Regions from separate parts of the Homo sapiens genome. Here region 2 is linked to region 1. The links come from fine-mapping of genetic effects on gene expression. A gene starts in region 1. The other region holds a variant in brackets. All regions are shown on one strand. Distances are from middle to middle.

The links. PIP is the estimated chance that this variant, and not a neighbour inherited with it, causes the effect. A credible set is the group of variants that fine-mapping cannot tell apart.
Region 2: its variant is the best candidate, but not a certain one, in a credible set for the expression of RMND1 in stomach (GTEx, PIP 0.57).

Annotation. Positions count from the first base shown.
Region 1 is chr6:151,448,858-151,454,235 of GRCh38, forward strand. RMND1 (required for meiotic nuclear division 1 homolog) reads right to left here and starts at 3,269. Exons shown (of 12, transcript NM_017909.4): 1 at 3,159-3,269. It overlaps DCPH1 (damage control phosphatase 1), which reads left to right and starts at 3,609. Exons shown (of 5, transcript NM_024573.3): 1 at 3,609-3,729. The coding sequence starts at 3,689. RefSeq lists enhancers at 2,997-3,046, 3,237-3,686 and a silencer at 3,847-3,966.
Region 2 is chr6:151,420,446-151,425,823 of GRCh38, forward strand. It overlaps RMND1 (required for meiotic nuclear division 1 homolog), which reads right to left. Exons shown (of 12, transcript NM_017909.4): 7 at 3,080-3,186; 8 at 2,096-2,160; 9 at 800-876. Among named protein-coding and RNA genes, the nearest start is that of RMND1, 29 kb to the right of the region's middle. The variant C/T (reference allele first, on the strand shown) is at 2,482.

The DNA of each region.
Region 1 (5,378 bases):
CTTGGGGTCAGGAGTTCCAGACCAGCCTGGCCAACACGGCGAAACCCCGTGTCTACTAAAAATACAAAAATCAGCCGGGCATGGTGGCATGGGCCTATAATCCCAGTTACTTGGGAGGCTGAGGCACGAGAATGGCTTGAATCTGGGAGGCGGAGATTGCGCCACTGCACTCCAGAATGAGCAACAAAGCGAGACTCTGTCTCAAAAAAAAAAAAAAAAAAAAAAAAAAAGCCTGGCGCGGTGGCTCACGCCTGTAACCCCAGCATTTTGGGAGGCCGAGGCGGGTGATTCACAAGGTCAGATGTTCGAGGCCAGCCTGGCCAACATGGTGAAACCTCGTCTCTACTAAAAATACAAAAAAATTAGCTGAGCGTGGCGGCGGGTGCCTGTAATCCCAGTTACTCGGGAGGCCAAGGCAGGAGAATCGCCTGAACCCGGGAGGTGGAGGTTGCAGTGAGCCGAGATCGCGCCACTGCACTAAAGTCTGGGCGACAGAGTGAGATTCTGTAACGAAAAAAAAAAAAAAAAGCTAAACCCCTCAGAATGGCCTGCATGGCACTACATTATCTGTCCTTTATCACCACTTTGACAGCACTCTCCTTTGCTTATTTTGCTCCTCATTCTGGTCTCTGGATCTGTGCACTTGCTGTTCCTTACGCTCTTCTCCCAGGGATCTGAAAGGCTCACACCCTCACCTCCTTCAGATGTTTGCTAAAATGTCTTCTACCCAGTGAAGCCTTCCCCAACCACTACATTAAAAACACACAACCAGCCCTCTCCCTCTCCCTCCTCTCCCTCTCCCCACGGTCCCCCTCTCCCCACGGTCTCCCTCTGATGCCGAGCCGAAGCTGGACTGTACTGCTGCCATCTCGGCTCACTGCAACCTCCCTGCCTGATTCTCCTGCCTCAGCCTGCCGAGTGCCTGCGATTACAGGCGCATGCCGCCACGCCTGACTGGTTTTCGTACTTTTTTGGTGGAGACGGGGTTTCGCTGTGTTGGCCGGGCTGGTCTGCAGCTCCTAACCGCGAGTGATCTGCCAGCCTCGGCCTCCCGAGGTGCCGGGTTTGCAGACGGAGTCTGGTTCACTCAGTGCTCAATGGTGCACAGGCTGGAGTGCAGTGGCGTGATCGAGGCTCGCTACAACCTCCACCTCCCAGCCGCCTGCCTTGGCCTCCCAAAGTGCCGAGATTGCAGCCTCTGCCTGGCCCCCCATCGTCTGGGACGTGAGGAGCCCCTCTGCCTGGCTGCCCAGTCTGGAAAGTGAGGAGCGTCTCTGCCCGGCCGCCATCCCATCTAGGAAGTGAGGAGCACCTCTTCCCGGCCGCCATCCCATCTAGGAAGTGAGGGGAGTCTCTGCCCGGCCGCCCATCGTCTGAGATGTGGGGAGCACCTCTGCCCCGCCGCCCCGTCTGGGATGTGAGGAGCGCCTCTGCCCGGCCGCCCCATCTGAGAAGTGAGGAGACCCTCCGCCCGGCAGCCACCCCATCCGGGAGGGAGGTGGGGGTCAGCCCCCGCCAGGCCAGCCACCCCATCCGGGAGGGAGGTGGGGGTCAGCCCCCCGCCCGGCCAGCCACCCCGTCTGGGAGGGAGGTGGGGGGGCCAGCCCCCGTCCGGGAGGAAGGTGGGGTGTCAGCCCCCCGCCCGGCCAGCCGCCCCGTCCGGGAGGGAGGTGGGGGGTCAGCCCCCCGCCCGGCCAGCCGCCCCGTCCGGGAGGGAGGTGGGGGGGTCAGCCCCCCGCCCGGCCAGCCGCCCCGTCCGGGAGGTGAGGGGCGCCTCTGCCCGGCCGCCCCTACTGGGATGTGAGGAGCCCCTCTGCCCGGCCACCACCCCGTCTGGGAGGTGTACTCAACAGCTCATTGAGAACGGGACGGGATGACAATGGCGGTTTTGTGTAATAGAAAGGGGGGAAAGGGGGGGAAAAGATTGAGAAATCGGATGGTTGCCGTGTCTGTGTAGAAAGAAGTAGACATGGGAGACTTTTCATTTTGTTCCATACTAAGAAAAATTCTTCTGCCTTGGGATCCTGCTAATCGGTGACCTTACCCCCAACCCTGTGCTCTCTGAAACATGTGCTGTGTCCACTCAGAGTTGAATGGATTAAGGGCGGTGCAAGATGTGCTTTGTTAAACAGATGCTTGAAGGCAGCGTGCTGGTTAAGAGTCATCACCACTCCCTAATCTCAAGTACCCAGGGACACAAACACTGCGGAAGGCCGCAGGGTCCTCTGCCTAGGAAAACCAGAGACCTTTGTGCACTTGTTTATCTGCTGACCTTCCCTCCACTATTGTCCTATGACCCTGCCAAATCCCCCTCTGCGAGAAACACCCAAGAATGATCAATAAAAAAAAAAAAAAAAAAAAACACAACCAGCATCCATTCTCTTATCTTCCTCCACTTTGCATTTCTCCATTGTTTAACATCACTTGCACACCTTTAATTTTTAGTTTATTAATTCATACTGCAAACGAACTCAGTTCTTATCATGTGCCAGGTATTGTCCTAGTTGCTGACAATACAGCTGAAAATAAAATAGACAAAAATCCTATCTTTTGAATCTTTTGAACCTTGCATTGGGAGTGACAGACAAAACGAGGTAAATCAGTAAAATACGTGAGACACAAAGCTAAAGGAAAAAAATAAGAGGAAAGGGCAGATTTTTGTGTCTTCCTTCCAGAATGGAAGCTCCCTGAGGATACGGATTTGTGTTTTTTCCTATTATATCTCCTGACAATAGCGCCCAGCACATAGTAGGCATTCGATCGAATTTTTAAAATGAAATACAAGGCAGTTACTCAGTTCCCGGGCACATTTCAACTTTTAGAGAACAATTACACCAATTAAGAAAATCGATTACAGCTAGGCTACGATTCGAGAGCTAAGTGGCGCTCATCTTTGGGAGTATGCCGTTCAATTCCTCAAACTCAAAATTATTTTATCGATTTCTACAGTTACCGCGGTGCACTGGCTCAAAAAAAGGGTTCATTAATTGAGTGCTTTTTACTCCCAGCTAAGCTGACCAAAGATCACGGTAAGAGGCAAAGGGTCACAGCCGCACTGGCGTAACCCGTAACTGTACACGTTCCGGGCGGCCAGGAGCCAGGGCGCAGACCTCCAAGCCGGACCACTCGAGCTGCTAAAGAAAAGGCAATACACTAACCTCTCCGCCGGAAGAGAAGAAGGAAGCGCCAGGGACGCACGCTTCCTCGGCAGGACTGCAGGGAAAGAGCCGCACCCCCAGCCTCTCACTACTGCAGCCAACCCATCTCCTGGAAGGGCGCTCCCGCCCACCCCCGCTACTGCGCAGCCGCACTGAACTCTGGTCCCACTTAGCGGGAGAAACTCGGGCCACGTGACTGTCTGACCACGTGAGCCGCGTCGCCGCGACCTCTTCCGCTCCCTAGGCCCTGGGACCTCCCGGTCCCTTGCCTGCTTCCGGCTTTCGCTCGCTTCCATATCCGCTCCTCTAGTCGCCCTCCGCTGGCCCCGCCTTCGTCCCCGGAAGATTGGGTCTTCTGGCGAGCCACTGTTTGCCGTTTGATCGGGCACCAAATAAAGTTTCTTTATTCAAAAGCACTTTTTTTTTAAAGCCACACCACCCCCATTCTCAGCTCCTCCTTCGCGGCGGTACCGCCTCTGTTTCTGCGGCGATTGAACAGCCGAGCTTTGCGGCCGGGATCGCGGAAAGTGATGGCTGTCGTCCCGGCGTCTCTCTCAGGACAGGACGTGGGGTTAGTCTAGCTTTTCTCCTCCCCACTTTTGCGGAAAGCCGGGCCTCGCCGGGAGCCTGTGGGGACTAAGCGGAGGGCGCCCGCTCCCCGGTGGGCTGCGTTCGAGTCCCGCCGCCGGGCGCGGCTTTCCGGGGCGCCTTTGCGGGTTTCGCGGACTGGCTCGGAGGCGAAGGGAGGCGGCCCCGGGGAGGGAGCCTGCCCGCGGCGGCTGCTCGTAAGGATCAGGACAGGGGTCAGCTTCGCGGTCTGTTCCTGGCGGTCACTTTTTATTTATTCACTTTAATAGACGCGCTTTGGGGGCGTTAAAATTCTGCGTAAGAGTTGGGGATCTCAGCGCTATTAAGAAACGGGTTTCTCCCTGTTGTTGATCAAATCGTAATCTCACAGTAAGAACTGTCTAGTTTTTTGCTTTATAGTCGTCACGCTACTGATTCTTGGGTAAAGTTGTGGGTGACCGTGCAAATAACATCCATTTGCATAAATCGAATGGCCAAATTTATATTTGAAATTTGTCCTTACTTCAAAATATTGCAAAAGACGAGAACACTTTGAAGAAAATAAACCTGGGCAGAAAGTAGGTTGAGGCCAACAAAGTGGCGCCAATGGCCCCAAATTGAGGCAGTCACTGTTTCAGGTCATGCAAGTATAGAGAGTATCTCCTTCAATTTTGCGCCCTAGGGCTTCTGGCCTCACTCCAGTCCTGGCCAGAGACTTTGTTCCAGAGGTGCAGGAAATGTAGTAGTTAGGAAAACAGTAATACTTTCCAATTAAAGTAAAATCTCAAAAAAGGACTTACTATACCTACTGCCTGGGAAAATTCAAGTGACAGTTGATTTAATGTTCCTGCTCACCCTCTGAGGTATTAGTGATTTCTTTTATTAATGATTTTTAAAAATTAAATTCTGATCAACGTAGTTATTATGCGCATTAAAACCTAATCACTGTTTTGGGTGGTACTGAAAGCACCACAGAGTCGGAAAGTGTGTGCAGTTTTTTTCTTAAAGTTCTATAGCTATCATTTGAGGAAACCTTTTGAAGAAATACCCAAGTTACAATCTAGTAATTTAACAATTGTCTCCTGTGATCTGGAGATAAAAACACTAGTCAGCTAAGCTCTGTGCTCTATATTTAAAACTGCACAGAATTTCTCCACCAAATAAAGCTTTTTTTCTACCTGTATCATGTATTTCCTTAGAATGATATAAAATGATAATCTGTAAATCTTGGGTTTTGTATGAATAAAATCAAGAATATCTTTAATTTTTTAATGCAGGTATAAGTTTTTCTTCATCTCCAGCTTGCTTCATTCTTGAACACTTCTATAAAATCTCTGATTTTTTGAGTGGGAAGAGACAGTAGCACGCCTTCATTTGCTTAGGGGCAGAATAGGATGGAAGGAGTCCATTGTGCAGATAGAGAAGGCAGAGAAGGGGAAAATTTTTGAAAATAATTAAAATTGACTTAGAAAATAGACAGAATGGAGAGAAACAGGCTTAAAAGTACCTTTAATTCTTTATGTTGTTCAAGCACATTAGACCCTTTAGGTGGTTTTAGATGCATTGCTTCATTCATCTTTCTAAGCAGGTGACTTAGCAGATAGTAGACCTGGGACAAGAGCCTGTTTGATTTCTAAGCTAATCCATTCCCTA
Region 2 (5,378 bases), 28 kb before region 1:
GAAGGGATAAACTGGACAATGCTGCCTGTGAGAAAAACACCAACATCCGGGATGTTTCATTCCGTAAATCCTGGGACAACTACAAGAATAATAAAAGCTGAAAACCTTTCCAGATACTTATTTAAAATGATTCATCAGTTTTTAGACATAGTTATTCCCATTTTAACATCTCGAGGCATCTTAAAATTAATGGTGTCTGACAGGTGGCACTTGAGACTTACTTGTCTTTGCCTTAAATAATTTATTTTCTTATGCTTTCCTTTTCATATATGCCCAAGAGGGAATGTGATATAATTTATATCCAGCTAAGATTAAAAGATATTTCAGTAAGTGTAAAATTTTAATCCTCTGATAAAAAAAGTATTGTCATAGTTTAACTGGCAGCAGTTTTTCTCTCCAGTGGCATCTTGGTGTCTCAGATTCAAAGAAACTTTTCTGTAGCAATTAAGCCTATTTAGCATTATGATGCAGTGATATATTTTTACAGAGAATTCCCATTAACCAAATTCAGGAATATGTCTTTCTACCTTCAAAGAACACCTACTGTGCTCCTTAATGTGGGTTTAATGTAGATGAATCGTGATCTCTTTTGCACATGCGTGATTTCTTTCAGTACAGTCTTAACACAGCCCAACTACTTCTAATGGGTAAGAGTTCTCCCTGCTTATAATCAATGAAATGAAAACAGCTACAGTTCCCATAAACGTGTAAATGTTTGCTCTTCACCACAGAACTATGGGAATGTTTTCTTGAGATTGTTAAATATATGAAATATTTTATTTAGAGAGAAAACTTTTACCTTAGAGCAAAGAGTTCACCGATTTTCTGCATAACTTCTTCATGAGATAGTTTCACTTTCTTCCCAGCTTTTAAAGCCTAGTTGAGAGGGAATCGGAAAAACCAAAAAACCATGTATCTCTCTTTCTAATAAGCATTAGGTCAACAGGGCAAAATCTGAAGTGGCATAATTTGGATCCTATGTAAATATTTTTTAGGATGGCTGTCTCCCAGATTAATGTCTTAACTCACCTTGAAATTTCATAATTTTATTAGGTAGAAATTGTATATTCTCTTTTTTCATTTCCCTTCTCATCAGCATTTTCAATGATATATACATTCCTAATCTCTTAGTAGAAAAGCAGGGCCTCCTTTCCGAAGTATAATTAGATTACTCTTTCACAATAAAGACACAGTTAATTACAATATGATGATTTTTAATGTATACTGAAATTTCAATATAACTTTATATGTATTTTTCATACCACTATTTTTCTCATAATTTAGCAAAACACTTTCTTAAATCAGGAAAAGTGGTCATAATTTCCATTCTCAGAGAGAAACATTTCACTTTTTTCTTTAATTCAGTTACATTAAAAATACTGCAACTGACGGGCATGGTGGCTCGTGGCCTGTAATGCTAGAACTTTGGGAGGCCGAGGCAGGAGGATCGCTTGAGCCCAGGAGTTCAAGACCAGCCTGGGCAACATGGCCAGACCCCATTTCAATTATATTAATATTAAAAAAAAAATACTGCACCAACAGAGGAAACAATTTGAAGTTTTAAAAAGTAAAAAGTAATCAATATGAAGTTTCTTAATTTGTCATTTTATATGTAACTGGGAGTTCTTAAGTTTACTGTAGTTTTCTTATTGTTTGTAATAATGTTGTTGTACTCCTAAACAATCGGCCCTCTATAAGTTCTGCAACTGCAGATTCAACCAACTGCAAATTGACAGTATTTTGAGAAAAAAGAATGGTTGCATCTGTACCGAACATGTACAAACTGTTTTTTCTTGTTATTATTTCCTAAATAATACAGTATAACAACTATTTACATAGTATTTACATTATATTAGGTATTTTAGGTAATCTAGAGATGGTTGAAAGTATACATGAGGATATGCATAGGTTATATGCAAATATATACCATTTTATATCAGGGATTTGGACACTGGTAGATTCTGGTATCCAGTGGGGTCTTGGAACAAATCTCCCATGGATACTGATGGATAGCTATATATTGTTATATTGGGAAATTCATATTTTTTACATATAAAAATCAATCCTTGAATAAGCATAAAATTGATATAATTACCTCAGGAATTGACTGAATAGATTCAATAAATTTATCCAGTGATGCTTCCCAAATTGCCAGTTTTACTGGGAAAAAAATTAATAATGGAACATTTCTTTATCATCATATTCACATGTATATAAAATACATAATTGCACAGCATCTTCACTACTATTTCAGTAATAGTTTAAGAAAAAGTACTAAAACCTTGAAAATATAATTTAAGAATAGTTAATTATCATAAAGGACAGAATTAAAGTGGATAGAGGAAACTGAATCGCTTTCCATGCCCTATTGGAAGACCAAAGCTACATTTAGTAGAACTCTTGATTTTCTAGTATTACATCTTGGAAACTGAGGAGGGTAGGGTACACCTTGATACCATGGGTAGCTCTGCAGATAGGGCG[C/T]GACTAAGACTTTCCTGGCCTCCCCTTCACTCCTCAGGACTAAGAGTAAACCTCAGAAATCTCCGAAGCCCCTCAGAGTGGGATGGACAGGACGCTGCAGCAGCCACCTAAGGTAGACTGCTGGCAAAAGAAATTCTTAAAGAACTTGTATAGTTTTATTCGGGATGTGGATCTTTCAGAACAAACTTATAGCCACTGTGACTCTGGGTCCCATTCCTATGGAACACTAGAGTATGTTTTTCTACACTGGGACCTGTGCCCAGTCACACAAGGCTGGGCTTCTCTGTCTGGATTAGAGACTATCTAAGAATAACAATCGCATAGAGAGAAGAGAAAAAAACAAAGGCTAATATAATCATCATCTAAAAAATACTTTTGGAGAGGTTAAGCTTTATTAATACAATTAATAAGGAATGAGTAACTTCAGCACAGTACTATCTTTTATACTAGATATTTTTTCTGATGGAGGGAAAAAAAGGAAAAGGAATGCTAAGGCTTTGTTGAGTATTCTGAAAATATACCAAAATCGTGACTATTTAAACTTCCCTCAGTGAAATGACAACTGTAGTACCCTATCCCATAAGCAGTAGTAACTTACCAGAAAGGCATAGAGCATTGGAGAAAGCAAACTTCTCTAGAATGGCATCATCTAAATCCAGCTCTGAATTTAACTTGATTTCCCCCCTGTGAAGTTTTGACTGTCCCCTGTGAAAAGCAAAAAGATAATACCTTCTAAATCTTAAAAAGCACTTTAACTTTTCCTTTGAAAAAGACACCATATCATCTTTCTGGAGGTCATTTTGACAATTTGTATCAAGAGTGTTACAAATGTTCTCATATCCTTTGGTCCAGGTAATTCCCTTTCTAGGAGTTTATCCTAAGGAAATAATCTAAGATGCAAAGAAAAATTTGTATACAAGAAAACTTTTTTTTTTTTTTTTGAGACAGTCTCACTCTGCCGCCCAGGCTAGAGTGCAGTGGTGCGATCTCAGCTCACTGCAACCTCAGTCTCCTAGGTTCAAGCGATTCTCCTGCCTCAGCCTCCCTAGTAGCTGGGATTACAGGCATGCGTAACCACACCCAGCTAATTTTTTTTGTATTTTTAATAGAGATAGAGTTTCACCATGTTGGCCAGGCTGGTCTTGAATTCCTGACCTCAAATGATCCACCCACCTCGGCCTCCCAAAGTGGTGCGACTACAGGTGCGAGCCACCTTGCCCAGCTGAAAACTTTTAAAAAAATGGTCAGTGTTGGCTGGGCACGGTGGCTCACGCCTGTAACCCCAGCACTCCGGGAGGCCGAGGCAGGTGGATCACGAGGTCAGGAGATTGAGACCATCCTGGCTAACATGGTGAAACCCCGTCTCTACTCAAAACACAAAATAAAATTAGCCGGGTGTGGTGGCGGGCGCCTGTAGTCCCAGCTACTCGGGAGGCTGAGGCAGGAGAATGGAGTGAACCCGGGAGGCGGAGCTTGCAGTAAGCCGAAATCACGCCACTGCACTCCAGCCTGGGAGACTGAGCAAGACTCTGTCTCCAAAAAAAAAAAAAAGGTCAGTGTTTAAGAGTAAAAAATTAGGAAATAAACCAAATGTTCAGTAGGGGTTGGCTCAGTAATAGTCACTCCACACAAGAAAAACTTAAAAGTGTGTTTTGGAAGGATAGTTAATAAAAAGGAGAACGTTCACAGTAAATTTCTATGTGAAAAAATGCTGCATATAAAACTATATATGGAGTGTAATCTAAAATCACACTGACATGATGGGGTTGGGGAGGGAGGCAAGGAAGTTGTGAAAAATGAGTATGTGACTGTGGAGAATCCTAGACAGGGGACAGGGGAAGAGCGGAATGTGTGAATATAAACATCACAAGCAAATGGAAAAAAGACAGGGTAAACCTTCACAAAAGATGTCAGACAAGAAGTGACGGCCAAAGGGAGGGGGACAAGGGGCCTGATGGAGGGCGGCATCTGCTATGACAGCCTCAGATGGAGGAAGGAAAGCAAAGACAGCAGTCACAAGAGGTCTTTTTTTTTGAGACGGAGTCTTGCTCTGTCACCCAGACTGGAGTGTAGTGGCGTGATCTTCGCTCACTGCAACCTCCGCCTCCTGGGTTCCAGCGATTCTCCTGCCTCAGCCTCCTGAGTAGCTGGGATTACAGGAGTGCACCACCACATCCAGCTAATTTTTATATTTGTAGTACAGACAGGGCTTCACCATGTTGGCCAGGCTGGTCTTGAACTCCTGACCTCAAGTGATCTGCCCGCCTTGGCCTCTCAAAGTGTTGGGATTACAGGCATGAGCCACTGTGCTTGGTCACAAGATGCTTTATGAGTAAACTGGGCCCATGCCACAGAGCTGAGCAGATCCCTGGAATCATGGCAGAACTCACATAATAACCATGTAGGTGGCAGCCAGGACAGTCTTTCTGACGAAACAAAATAACTGACTCTGGGATCCTAAGCACTGAGGATTTTACTCCTCACAGACTGTACAGTAACGTGTGTGTGTGTGTGTGGATAAGCGTACACACACACACACACAAGGGTCTAGCAGTAGTTGGATATGGAAGTATTTGGTTGGTGCAAAAGTAATCGCGGTTTTTGCCATTTTAATGTAAACCTAATAGAACACAGAAAGGGGATTCACAGGAGCTGTATCTGCAGGCCAAGGGCTGAGTAACTACTAAAGATAATAAAACTACAGGCTGCTCATTTGCTGTCTCTCTCAGGTTTATATCCTTACCTCTGACTGCAGCCACCACTGGGCTCAGGCTGACTCACAGTCAGGTGCCCTTTGGCAAGACAGGATTCAATAAATCTCATCGGAAAGCCAGTTAGCTGCAATTATAGGGTTTTCCCCAGGATTAAATGAAATAATACATGGAAGGCACTTACTT